2 linked regions of the Homo sapiens genome follow. The protein of the gene in region 1 interacts with the protein of each later gene in a pairwise test. Each region holds a gene or a part of one and is shown in the gene's direction. Other genes may lie near its edges.

Region 1 (4,328 bases):
AAACAGTCCATTAAGTAAAAACTTTCAGCTTCCTGGTCTTCCTCTTTGCCCACTACTCTCAAACTTATACTCTACTCCCATTTCAGAGGAAATGGGAGCCCTTCACTTGTCTGGGACCAATTCTCTGTATGCTTTAGGTCATATTTCTCCCTGCATAAGATTACTCAAGGACCTCTGTCCTCAACCTAAAGCTCTCTCTCATTCTTTTGTTCCCAGCTGGTTCCCAGGGTGCCTACCCTTTGTTTGTTTGTATCACTGCAATAAAACTGCTCTCCTTAAATCCATCAGTGACTTCCTCAGTGCTAGGCTCAAAAAGACACTTTGTAGTCCTTAGCGTCCTAAATAATTCAGCAGCATTTGCCCTTGTAAAAACTGCCTTTTAAATTAAAATATATATATATATTTTAAATAAAGACAGGATTTTGCCATGTTGCCCAACCTGGTCTCCAGTTTCTGAGCTCAAGCGATCTGCCTGCCTTGGCCTCCCAAAGTGTTAGGATTACAGGTGTGAGCTACTGCACCCAGCTGAAACTGCTTTCTCCCACCCCCCCCCCCCCATTATTTATTTATTGATTGACACTGATTCTCTCTTTTTTTTTTTTTTTTTTTTTTGAGACGGAGTCTCATTCTGCTGCCAGGCTGGAGTGCAGTGGCATGATCTTGGCTCACTGCAACCTCTGCCTCCTGGGTTCAAGTGATTGTCGTGCCTCAGCCTTCCAAGTAGATGGAATTACAGGTGCACACCACTATACCTGGCTAATTTTTTTTTTTTTTTTTTTTTTTTTGGATTTTTAGTAGAGGTTGGGTTCAGCGTGTTGGCCAGGCTGGTCTTGAACTCCTGACCTCAAGTGATCTGCCTGCCTTAGCCTCCCAAAAGTGCTGGGATTACAGGCGGGCGTGAGCCACCATACCCAGCCTTTTTTTATTTTTATTATTTTAATTTTACTTTAAGTTCTGGGGTACATGTGCAGAATGTGCAGGTTTGTTATATAGGTGTACATGTGCCATGGTGAACTGCTTTCTTAAAATTCTCTTCTCCCTTGACTCCAGGGTACCATTCCCTTCTGATCTTTTTTTCTTTGTTTCTAGGGCTGCTTTTCTCAGTTTCCTTCCTGGGCTCCTCTTCTACCTCCTATATCTTAAATATTGTTATTTCATAGAGTTCTGTCCTTGTCATTTTAGTTCACTCTGCATATTTCCCTGCCTGATGCTAGCCACTCAGTCACCCCTGCTATTGGCTTATGACTTCCAAATCTGTCATCTCCAGTTCATGTTTTTTTTCCTGAAATCTAAAGGCATATATTCAACTGTGTACCAGACATCTCTGTTTTGGATATCACAGTTTCCTCAAACTCAGCATGTACAAAATAGAATTCATCGTTGTTCCCTGACAACTTCATTCTGTTCCTGTTTTTCCTATAACCTACTGATTACCCAAGCTAAAATCCTGCATCTTGGCCTTGATGATGCTTCCCCCAATATTTAGTCCCTTAGTACCAAGTTGTACTATTTGACTTTCTTAAAATATTTCTCAACTCACTTTCCTCCTATGCTCCATTGACTGTCTCACTCGAGACTATCTGGATTACTGTAAAAGCCTCTTGACCAATCTTTCTGCCTATACTTTTGTCACTGAAAAACTACCACTAGGTTGAATTCCTTTTTTTCTTTTTTTAATAGAGATGGGATCTCCCTGTTTCCCAGGCTGGTCTCGAACTCCTGGGCTCAAGCAATCCTCCTGCCTCAGCCTCTCAAAGTGCTGGGAGTGAGCCATTGTGCCAGGCTGTAGGTTGAACTTCAAAATGAAAATTTATCTGTGGCATTCCACTGCTTAAAATTTTTCCTTGACTTGCTGTTGCCTTGGGATAAACTCCAGACCCCTAAGTGTGATCTACTTCTTACCCTCACTGTCAGTTGAGTTATTCCCAACAAAGGTGATGTGCCGCTTTACATTTCACAAGCTCTTCACTTTATCATCAGTATCTTTCATCTCTCCTTCTCTCCTCCCTTCTGCCAGCTTATTACTCCTTTCATCCTTTCAGACCAACTCTAGCTTGGACTTCATGAAGCAATTCCTGGGCCTGGCTATAAGTGTTCTTATTCCCTATATCTGGGTCTCCCTCCTGGGGTGCTGTCTTTGCATCCTGTGCTATAACCTTTACCATAATGTCATTTATTTTGTCTGTCCCCACTCCCAAACTATGTAATGGGAAGGTCAGTCCTCCTGCGTCCCCAGGATCTATTGTGGTATTAGATGTCAGTGAGAGGAGCTGAGTTGATGTGAAATGAAGTGACCTGACTGACAGTGGTCAGGTGTTGCTGTTGACACACAGAAATGGAACACAGCCATTTAACTAGCACAAGATAGGGACTAGCACAAGATTTAGCTAGCACAAGATAGGGACTACATTTGCGGTTTTTCAAGCTCTCTTTTTTTGTTTTTTTGGGAGAGTCTCACTCTGTTGCCCAGGCTGGAGTGCAGTGGTGCAGTGGTGCAATCTCGGCTCACCGCAGCCTTCACCTCCCAGGTTCAAGTGATTCTTGTGCCACGTGGTAGCTCATGCCTGTAATCCCAGCTACTTCGGAGGCTCAGGCACAAGAATCACTGGTCTCGAACTCCTGGGCTCAAGTGATCCGCCTATCTCGGCCTCTCAGAGTTCTGGGATTACAGGTGTGAGCCACCATGCCAGGCCTCAACCCCTCTTCTTTATCATAGGTATTGCGAGTTAGATGTTCTGATAGGAGACTTCTTCACAACTTGCAAACCTGCTCCTTCTTCCCGTAGGTATTTACATGAGGAATTTCCAGAGTCCTGGTCAGTTCCCAGGTTGGCTGAAGGCTTTGATGTCAGCACTGATGTGATCCGAAGAGTTTTAAAAAGCAAGTTTTTACCCACATTGGAGCAGAAGCTGAAGCAGGATCAAAAAGTCCTTAAGAAAGCTGGGCTTGCCCACTCGCTGCAGCACCTCCGGGGCTCTGGAAATACCTCAAAGCTGCTCCCTGCAGGCCACTCTGTATCAGGCTCTTTGCTTATGCCAGGGCATGAAGCCTCATCTAAAGACCCAAATCACAGCACAGCTTTGAAAGTGATAGAGTCAGACACTCACAGGACAAATACACCAAGGAGAAGGAAGGGAAGAAATAAAGAAATCCAGGACCTGGAGGAGAGCTTTGTGCCTGTTGCTGCACCCCTAGGTCATCCAAGAGAGCTGCAGAAGTACTCCAGTGATTCTGAGAGCCCCAGAGGAACTGGCAGTGGTGCGTTGCCAAGTGGTCAGAAGCTGGAGGAGTTGAAGGCAGAGGAGCCAGATAACTTCAGCAGCAAAGTAGTGCAGAGGGGCCGAGAGTTCTTTGACAGCAACGGGAACTTCCTGTACAGAATTTGAGTCGGGGCTTGGCTTATGGAGATGCCTCGTGAAACACAGCTGGGCAAGTATTAATGTATATGGAACAGCCTGGATTTCTGCATATGGATAAGCCACCTTGGAATAGGAAGAGGTGTTGAGCCTGGACTGTGGGAGGAAAGAGCTGCGTGGATAGATTCAAACTTCCTGTGGTAGTGCTCCCAGTCTGACCTCTGTAGACCTTCAGTACTCACTCTTCTTGCTTAGGCTCTCTGTGTGTTGAAAGCCATCCCGTGTTGCATGTGTTGTTACAATTTTCTGTGATACTTGCAATTTATGTTTGAGAAGAAGTGAAAAGTTTGCCTTCTGACCTCATTTCCTTCTTGATCAGTGAACACTAACATTTTGGGGACAACTTAGTCAATTGGTTTTCCTTACAACAAAATAAAGTAAAATGTAGCAGTCTGCCTCTTTGGTGCTCTTTGGGGTGGGATGGTTTACCTGTGAACCTTGGAGAGAGGGAAGGACAAAGGCAGAAAGGAAGGATCCCTGGTCAGTAAACATTGGGAGAGAGATGGAACCAGAGGAATTTCCCAGCAAAGGGCTCTGTGCAGAGCATCCTGCTTAGTGAGGGATTCTGACAACTGAAAACTGGACGCCTTTCTTTTAGTTGCTGGGGTTCTGGCAGAGATTGGGAAATGAGGGGTTGGCAGAAAATACAAAGCAGGCAAAGGCTTTAGGGCCCTTATAATCTCCAGCCACATTTTAAAGTTTATATTAAGAGCTGGGCATGGCAGAATGTGCCTACAGTCCCAGTTACTTGGGAGGCCGAGGTGGGAGAATCGCTTGAGCCTCGGAGGTTGAGGCTGCAGTGAGCTATGATTGCACCACTGCACTCCAGCCTGGGATAACAGTGAGACCCCCATCTCTAAATAAAATCAATCGATCTTCAATTATGTCTCATTATACAGTTTACTTAACCAG
Region 2 (7,284 bases), on another chromosome or scaffold:
GGCTGTGTTAAAAAAATATAACCAGCATGTGCAGATAGTACTGCTTAGGACGGGGCACAAAATGAGTCAATATAAAATTTATCTACAAAAAAAGTATGTAAATATGCAAGTGTTATGTAAATAACTATGCCTCCGGTACTTAGTCTATCAAAAACTAGACTGTGTCTGTACACACATACCCTCCAAATGGAAACATGAACTTAGAATTTCTCACTCCCTGGTGTGCCAGGTGAGGGGCTCATGGTCTCAGGCCACAGCCTTATCTATGTACATGTCCCCAGCAACGATCATGTCTAGCGTGTACTGTGACATGAGGAAGACAGGCCAGCTGGTGTAGAGGAGGGTCCAGGAGAAGGCCCCATGGAAGAACCCTGGGTGGGACAGGGAGGGGACAGCAGGCAGATGGGAGGTGCGCACTGAGGGGCAGAGAGGGGGGTGAGGGTCTCTCGGGACCCACCCTTGACTGTTCTCCCTGGCCCCTCAGATCAAGAAGGCCTTCTTTGCTCTGGTGGCCAACGGTGTGCGGGCAGCCCCTCTATGGGACAGCAAGAAGCAGAGCTTTGTGGGTGAGGAGAGGCTGGGGAGGTGAAGGGAGATGGAGGAGGTGAGGGGGAGATCTTGTACGGTTGTTCTGGGGCTGATCTCTGATATACCACAAGCTTGGCTTCAGGCCAAGCCCAGCCAGGGGCCAGGGTGGAGGAAAGTCCATCCGGAGTCTGCATGGCCAGCTGGGAGACCCTGGGGCTCAATTTCCCCATCTGTGGAGCCGCTATGACCAGCTGACACCTTTCACCTCCGCTACTGCATGGCCCTGTGCCATAGGTGCTAGGGAGCAAATGGGGGGAGGCAGGAGAGAAAGAGCCCCACTTCTCAGGCCTGGGGGGCTGCCCCACTGTCCTGTTCCCACAGTCCCCACTGTGTCTCAGCACAAGGACACTGGCAGGGTGGGGAGGGGATCTGACCCTCAACCTGCCTTCCACCCAAAGGCCCCGGGCTGACCTCCTCCCCGCCCCTCCCTGCAGGGATGCTGACCATCACTGACTTCATCCTGGTGCTGCATCGCTACTACAGGTCCCCCCTGGTGAGGAGTGGGCTGGGAATCTTATGGGCACCCAGAGGGGCGGGGGCGGAGGGGAGTCCTCCTGGAGCCTGGTGCCCTAGAAGCCCACGTCTTTCTGACTTCTGGAGTCCTGTCGATGTCTCTAGGTCCAGATCTATGAGATTGAACAACATAAGATTGAGACCTGGAGGGGTGAGTGGGGAGAGGAACCCGGAAAGGGCTGTTGGTGATGGTGGGCCAGGGCTTAAGGTGGAGGATGGGCAGTGGGGATGTCCTGGAGTGAACAGGGGAGGGACAATAGGAGCCTCGGGTGCCTGACGGAAGGGAAGCTGCCTGGGACTGCAAGGTGAGGCAGGTGACCGGCTCCCCTGGCCTGACTCTGGCTCTTTCTGCAGAGATCTACCTGCAAGGCTGCTTCAAGCCTCTGGTCTCCATCTCTCCTAATGATAGGTGGGTGTCTCTGCTCATTCACCTGAGCCTCCTCCTCCCACAGTCCCCTTCCCCAGTCCCACTCAGCTCTGAACTCACCTCTTCATCCTAGGCGGCACACAGACAAGGGAGCCTTGGTGCCCTGCCCTCCTTTTTAGGGGCCTGGGATGGAGGTTGTCTCTCCCTAGGCTGCCCCGAGGCTCACTGCTCCCATCTCTGCAGCCTGTTTGAAGCTGTCTACACCCTCATCAAGAACCGGATCCATCGCCTGCCTGTTCTTGACCCGGTGTCAGGCAACGTACTCCACATCCTCACACACAAACGCCTGCTCAAGTTCCTGCACATCTTTGTAAGCCTGGGCCCAGGTGGGAGGAAGGGGGAGACCTGGGCAGGTGATCAGAGGGCCTGAGGAGTCTTCAGCCCTAGCAGTCGTGGGGAAGAGCTGGGAGCCCTCTTGAAGCTGCTGGATCCCTGATCTCCACCTGGTCCCCATCCTAACCAGGGTTCCCTGCTGCCCCGGCCCTCCTTCCTCTACCGCACTATCCAAGATTTGGGCATCGGCACATTCCGAGACTTGGCTGTGGTGCTGGAGACAGCACCCATCCTGACTGCACTGGACATCTTTGTGGACCGGCGTGTGTCTGCACTGCCTGTGGTCAACGAATGTGGTACCCACCCCCAGGATGAGAGGCTCGGGCTGGGCTGGGGCCTGGGAGAACCTGGTGGGGAGAATATGGGAAGGGCAGGGTTTCTCATGCCATCCCTGTGGGGGGTACAGGATGGACTGGGGATTAGAAGTCTCCGTCTACTCTGAGACTTGGGCAAGTTGCTTAGCCTCTCTGTGCCTCAGTTTCCTCCTTTGTGAAATGGGATTCTTCACAACACTCATCTTTCTGACTTCACAGGAGGATTTAAAAGGTTATGTGCATGAAAATGGGCATAGCGAGAGGAAGCAGCAGATTTTAGTTTCAGTTCATCTTAAAATGGAGCCGGACACGTGGTGCATGGCTGTAATGCCAGCCCTTTGAGAGAGGCCAGAGCGAGAAGGTCGCTTGAGGCCAGGAGTTTGAGTTTACATACAGTGACACTCCAACCTGGGCAACAGAGCAAGACCCTGTCTCTAAAATAATAATAACGAAATAATAAAATTTAAAAAATTAAATGTGCCATGGGACCTCGGGCCCCCAGCCAGCCCTCAATTTCCTACACTGAAAAAGGGCTGCAGAAATGACAAGATTATTTCTTTGGTTGAATGATGGCTATGAAATATTTCAAAGCTAAAATCACCATAATTAAGATAGATATCAAGAAGTGTTTTCAATTTATTTTTGATTATAAAAAACTTCAAATGTATAGAAATGGTAGAAAGAAATTGCATAATGAACCACCTATATCCATTGCCTAGATTAACTACTGTTACTATATTGCCATAACCAGTTCATCTTTTTCTCTGAAGTAATTCAAAGTAAATTACAGACATCATGTCATTTCACCCCTAAACACTTTAGTCTGCACTTCTTAAAACAAGTGTATTTTTGGCCAGGGGCGGTGGCTCATGCCTGTAATCCCAGCACTTTGGGAGGCCAAGGTGGGCGGATCACGAGGTCAAGAGATCGAGACTATCCTGGCCAATATGATGAAACCCCATCTCTACTAAAACTACAAAAAAAAATTAGCTGGGCATGGTGGCGCACACCTCTAGTCCCAGCTACTTAGGAGGCTGAGGTAGGAGAATCGGTTGAACCTGGGAGGCAGAGGTTGCAGTGAGCCAAGATCGCGCCACTGTACTCCAGCCTGGCAACAGAGCGAGACTCCAAAAAAAAAAAAAAAAAGTGCATTTTATACCACCAAACAAAACCATGAATAATTCATATTATTGTCTGACATCCAATCCTTATTCTCACTTCTCCATTTCCTCAAGAATGTTGGGTATTTTGGGTGTTGTTTTGGGATGGAGTCTCCCTCTGTCACTCAGGCTAAAGTGCAGTGGTGCCATCTCGGCTCACTGCAACCTCTGCCTCCCGAGTTCAAGTGATTCTTGTGCCTCAGCCTCCTGAGTAGCTGGGATTACAGGCAAATGACACCACGCCCAGCTAATTTTTGGGGGGTATTTTTAGTAGAGATGAGGTTTCACCATATAGGCCAGGCCAGTCTCCAACTCCTGACCTCAAGTGATCCACCTGTCTTGGCCTCCCAAAGTGTTGGGATTACAGGCATGAGCCACCGCGACCGGCCAAGAATTTTTTTTTTTTTTTTTTTTGAGACAGAGTCTTGCTCTGTCGCCTGGGCTAGAATGCAATGGTGCAATCTTGGCTCACTGCAACCTCCACCTCCCAGATTCAAGCAATTCTCCTGCCTCAGCCGCCCAAATAGCTGGGTTTACAGGTGCGTGCCATCACACCTGGCTAATTTTTTGTATCTTTAGTAGAGATGGGGTTTCACTATGTTGGCCAGGCTGGTTTTGAACTCCTGACCTTGTGATCCACCCACCTCGGCCTCCCAAGGGAATGTATTTTTCATAGTTGATGTGTTCAAAACAGGATCCAATTGAAGTCCATGGTTTACATTCGTGTCTTTTGTTCCTTAAATCTCTTTAAATCTATAACAGCTCCATTCCCCCTAAATTGTTATGACGTGGGTGAGTTGAAAAGCCTGGGTCAGTTGTCCTATAGGATACCCCACATCCAGATTTGTCTGTTTGCTTTCTAGAGCTGGCCTTTACTTTGTTCTCTATTCCTGGGTTTCCTGTAAACTGAAATTATATCTAAAGGCTTGAAGAGATTTGGGCAATAAATTCGAGGCTAGACTATTTTGTAGGTGGTGCCATGTTACTCACACTGCATTTCCTCAGGATGCTCAATGTCAGGCTGTCTCACTCTGGGATGCTAAGTTTGATCCTTGGGTTCTGGTAGTGGCACCCTGATGCAAATAGCCCTAGGCCCTCTACACAGCACCCCGGTTCTGACCGGAGCCTCTTCCCTGTCTTTCTCCCCCCACCCCCCACAACCACCCTCTGCAGGTCAGGTCGTGGGCCTCTATTCCCGCTTTGATGTGATTGTAAGTGTCGCTGGAAAGGTGGGATGCTGCAGGGAGGCTAAGGGTGTGGGGATGGGTGGGGGGCCTCTGTGGACCAGGGGGACCTTGACAAGTATGCAGGGGTTGACATCTGTAGGGTAGGAGCCCAGGCAAGGGGGTGACTAGGAGCCATACTTCTCTCTCTGCCCCAGCACCTGGCTGCCCAGCAAACCTACAACCACCTGGACATGAGTGTGGGAGAAGCCCTGAGGCAGAGGACACTATGTCTGGAGGGAGTCCTTTCCTGCCAGCCCCACGAGAGCTTGGGGGAAGTGATCGACAGGATTGCTCGGGAGCAGGTACCGTGTGCCCTCCATTCATGCCCCCAACACATATAGCCCAGTCCTTCTCATGCACGGCTCCAGCCATCCCTGAACATCGGGCACCTGGCCTATCCTTCCATTTCATGACCAACTCCTGGTGCCCACACTGGCCTGCACCTGGTCCTGTCCATGGGGCCCTTATGCCAGGGGTCACTGCCAACTGATCACCTTAGGCCGGTCACACCATCCCTAACTGGTTTCTAGGAGACGCTCTCTCCCTCAGTCATGTTGGGTTGTTTCCCCTGATTCTTGGCACCAACCTCAGTAGCTGCTGTAGCCCCATGGCTCTGCCCCCTCACTGAACATTGCGGACCCACAGGTACACAGGCTGGTGCTAGTGGACGAGACCCAGCATCTCTTGGGCGTGGTCTCCCTCTCCGACATCCTTCAGGCACTGGTGCTCAGCCCTGCTGGCATCGATGCCCTCGGGGCCTGAGAAGATCTGAGTCCTCAATCCCAAGCCACCTGCACACCTGGAAGCCAATGAAGGGAACTGGAGAACTCAGCCTTCATCTTCCCCCACCCCCATTTGCTGGTTCAGCTATGATTCAGGTAGGCTCTGCCCTGGGCCATGACACCAGCCTCTTAGTCTTCCTGATTTCCTGGATCTCAGATTGGGACACCCTGAGGATGGGAGTGGCCAAGCTCAAAGCTGAGCAGCCCTGTGAAAACTGCAAGTGTAAGGACTCACAGGTCCCCACTTTGTCCCATTTTCAGCTGAGGTCATGGAGACTGTCCTAGAAGGGAGGGACAAAGCCCCGGCTAAAAGCTAAGGCTGCGATGTGACTTCAGACACTCTGGGAAGATTTACTTGTTCCCTCACAATTCAATTTCCACCTGCTGGAAATCCCCTTAGAAGGAAGCAAGCTATATCAACATTTGTTGGATGGAATTTCCATCCCCAGTAAGAACTAAAGCTTAAAGGAAGGAGCTTCTACCTACGTGCTCATCTCAGGAAATGTGACATGATCTCAGACTCTTTCCTGGTCACACGTTTGCTAGGGGCTTGCAGAGGATGGGCACAGATTCCATCTACTCACCATGGCTGGCAAGGGTCCCCTGTTGGAAAGGCCGCTGTCCCTCCTATGTGGTCACCATCTTCCCTTTTCTTTTCCCCACAGGCTTCTTCAGCCCTCCCAAATTGCCCTTGCCCTACCTGTGCTCCCAGAAGCCCTCGGGCATGCCCAGTGCACCATGGGATGATGAAATTAAGGAGAACAGCTGAGTCAAGCTTGGAGGTCCCTGAACCAGAGGCACTAGGATTACCCCAGGGCCATCTGTGCTCCATGCCCGCCCATCCCCTTGCCGCCTGACTGGGTCGGATGGCCCCAGTGGGTTTAGTCAGGGCTTCTGGATTCCTCGGTTTCTGGGCTACCTATGGCTTCAGCCTTCAGCTCCTGGGAGTCCCAGCTGTTGTTCCCAGCAACGTCGCCACTGCCCTCCTACTCTCCAGGCTTTGTCATTTCAAGGCTGCTGAAATGCTGCATTTCAGGGGCCACCATGGAGCAGCCGTTATTTATAGAACTGCCTGTTGGAGGTGGGGAGTCCTCCCTCCATTCTTGTCCAGAAAACTCCTTAGCTCTCGCAGTGAGCCATGTTCTTAGTCTCCAGGGATGGATGGCCTTGTATATGGACCCCTGAGAATGAGCAATTGAGAAAACAAAACAAAAGGAACAATCCATGAACTTAGATTTTATTGGTTTCACTCAAAATGCTGCAGTCATTTGACCTGAACTTGTGGCAAGAGACTTGTGCTTTCTAAATTCAAAGACTAGAAGGAAAATGGATAAAAATCACAAGTGCCGTTTCTCTTGCAATGTAGCGCTATTCTACTGAAATTTCTTTCTTCTCTTTTCTTTACAAAATCATAAAGAAAAAATTAATTCATTACTTATATAGTAGGTACAACTCAGCCTACAAACTCTAATCTGCAAGAAGCATAACTTTATTTTTCTAACACAGAATGTAATTTCTATTAGGAACCCCGTTTCAGCAGGTGGTAGAAATTAATCTCAGTCAATTCAAAGTCTCCCCCTGACCTTTTCCTGGGGTTAAGCTCGGTCGGGTGGGGGTGTGGCTTTAAGTCATGTAAGACTCTGTTCCTCGGCTATCATCATCCGTCCATGCTCGCACCTGCCTGGACATCCCCTCCCCATCTGGTCATCAGTTGGTCATGCAAGGTCTGCCAGGGGCTCCTTCACTTCCACAAAGCCTATTTGGGGACCTGTGGCTTGGAGCATGTGGAAGATTCTAGCTCCTGGCCCTGCACACCCTCTGGCTTCAGGAAGCTCAGTAATTCTGTTCCAGGCCAACTGCTAAGATAGACAGCCCAGTCCCTTGTTCCGCTCTGTGGCTTGCTGTTTTCCCAGGCTCTACCCAGGAAGCGTGTGGGTTCTT

Evidence for each region.
Region 2: the proteins of NGRN (region 1) and PRKAG3 interact in a two-hybrid assay, tested with the Homo sapiens proteins (one study listed by BioGRID).

The regions. Positions count from the first base shown.
Region 1 is NC_000015.10:90,268,403-90,272,730, forward strand, and holds the end of NGRN (neugrin precursor), read left to right. Parts: intron 1-2,785; coding exon 2,786-3,386; 3' UTR 3,387-3,809; downstream 3,810-4,328. UniProt on the Homo sapiens protein: Plays an essential role in mitochondrial ribosome biogenesis.
Region 2 is NC_000002.12:218,821,801-218,829,084, reverse strand, and holds the end of PRKAG3 (5'-AMP-activated protein kinase subunit gamma-3), read left to right. Parts: intron 1-484; coding exon 485-566; intron 567-1,022; coding exon 1,023-1,081; intron 1,082-1,206; coding exon 1,207-1,252; intron 1,253-1,455; coding exon 1,456-1,510; intron 1,511-1,711; coding exon 1,712-1,838; intron 1,839-1,991; coding exon 1,992-2,157; intron 2,158-4,508; coding exon 4,509-4,546; intron 4,547-4,716; coding exon 4,717-4,863; intron 4,864-5,206; coding exon 5,207-5,323; 3' UTR 5,324-5,439; intron 5,440-5,930; exon of another isoform or gene 5,931-5,995; intron 5,996-6,008; 3' UTR 6,009-6,777; downstream 6,778-7,284. UniProt on the Homo sapiens protein: AMP/ATP-binding subunit of AMP-activated protein kinase (AMPK), an energy sensor protein kinase that plays a key role in regulating cellular energy metabolism.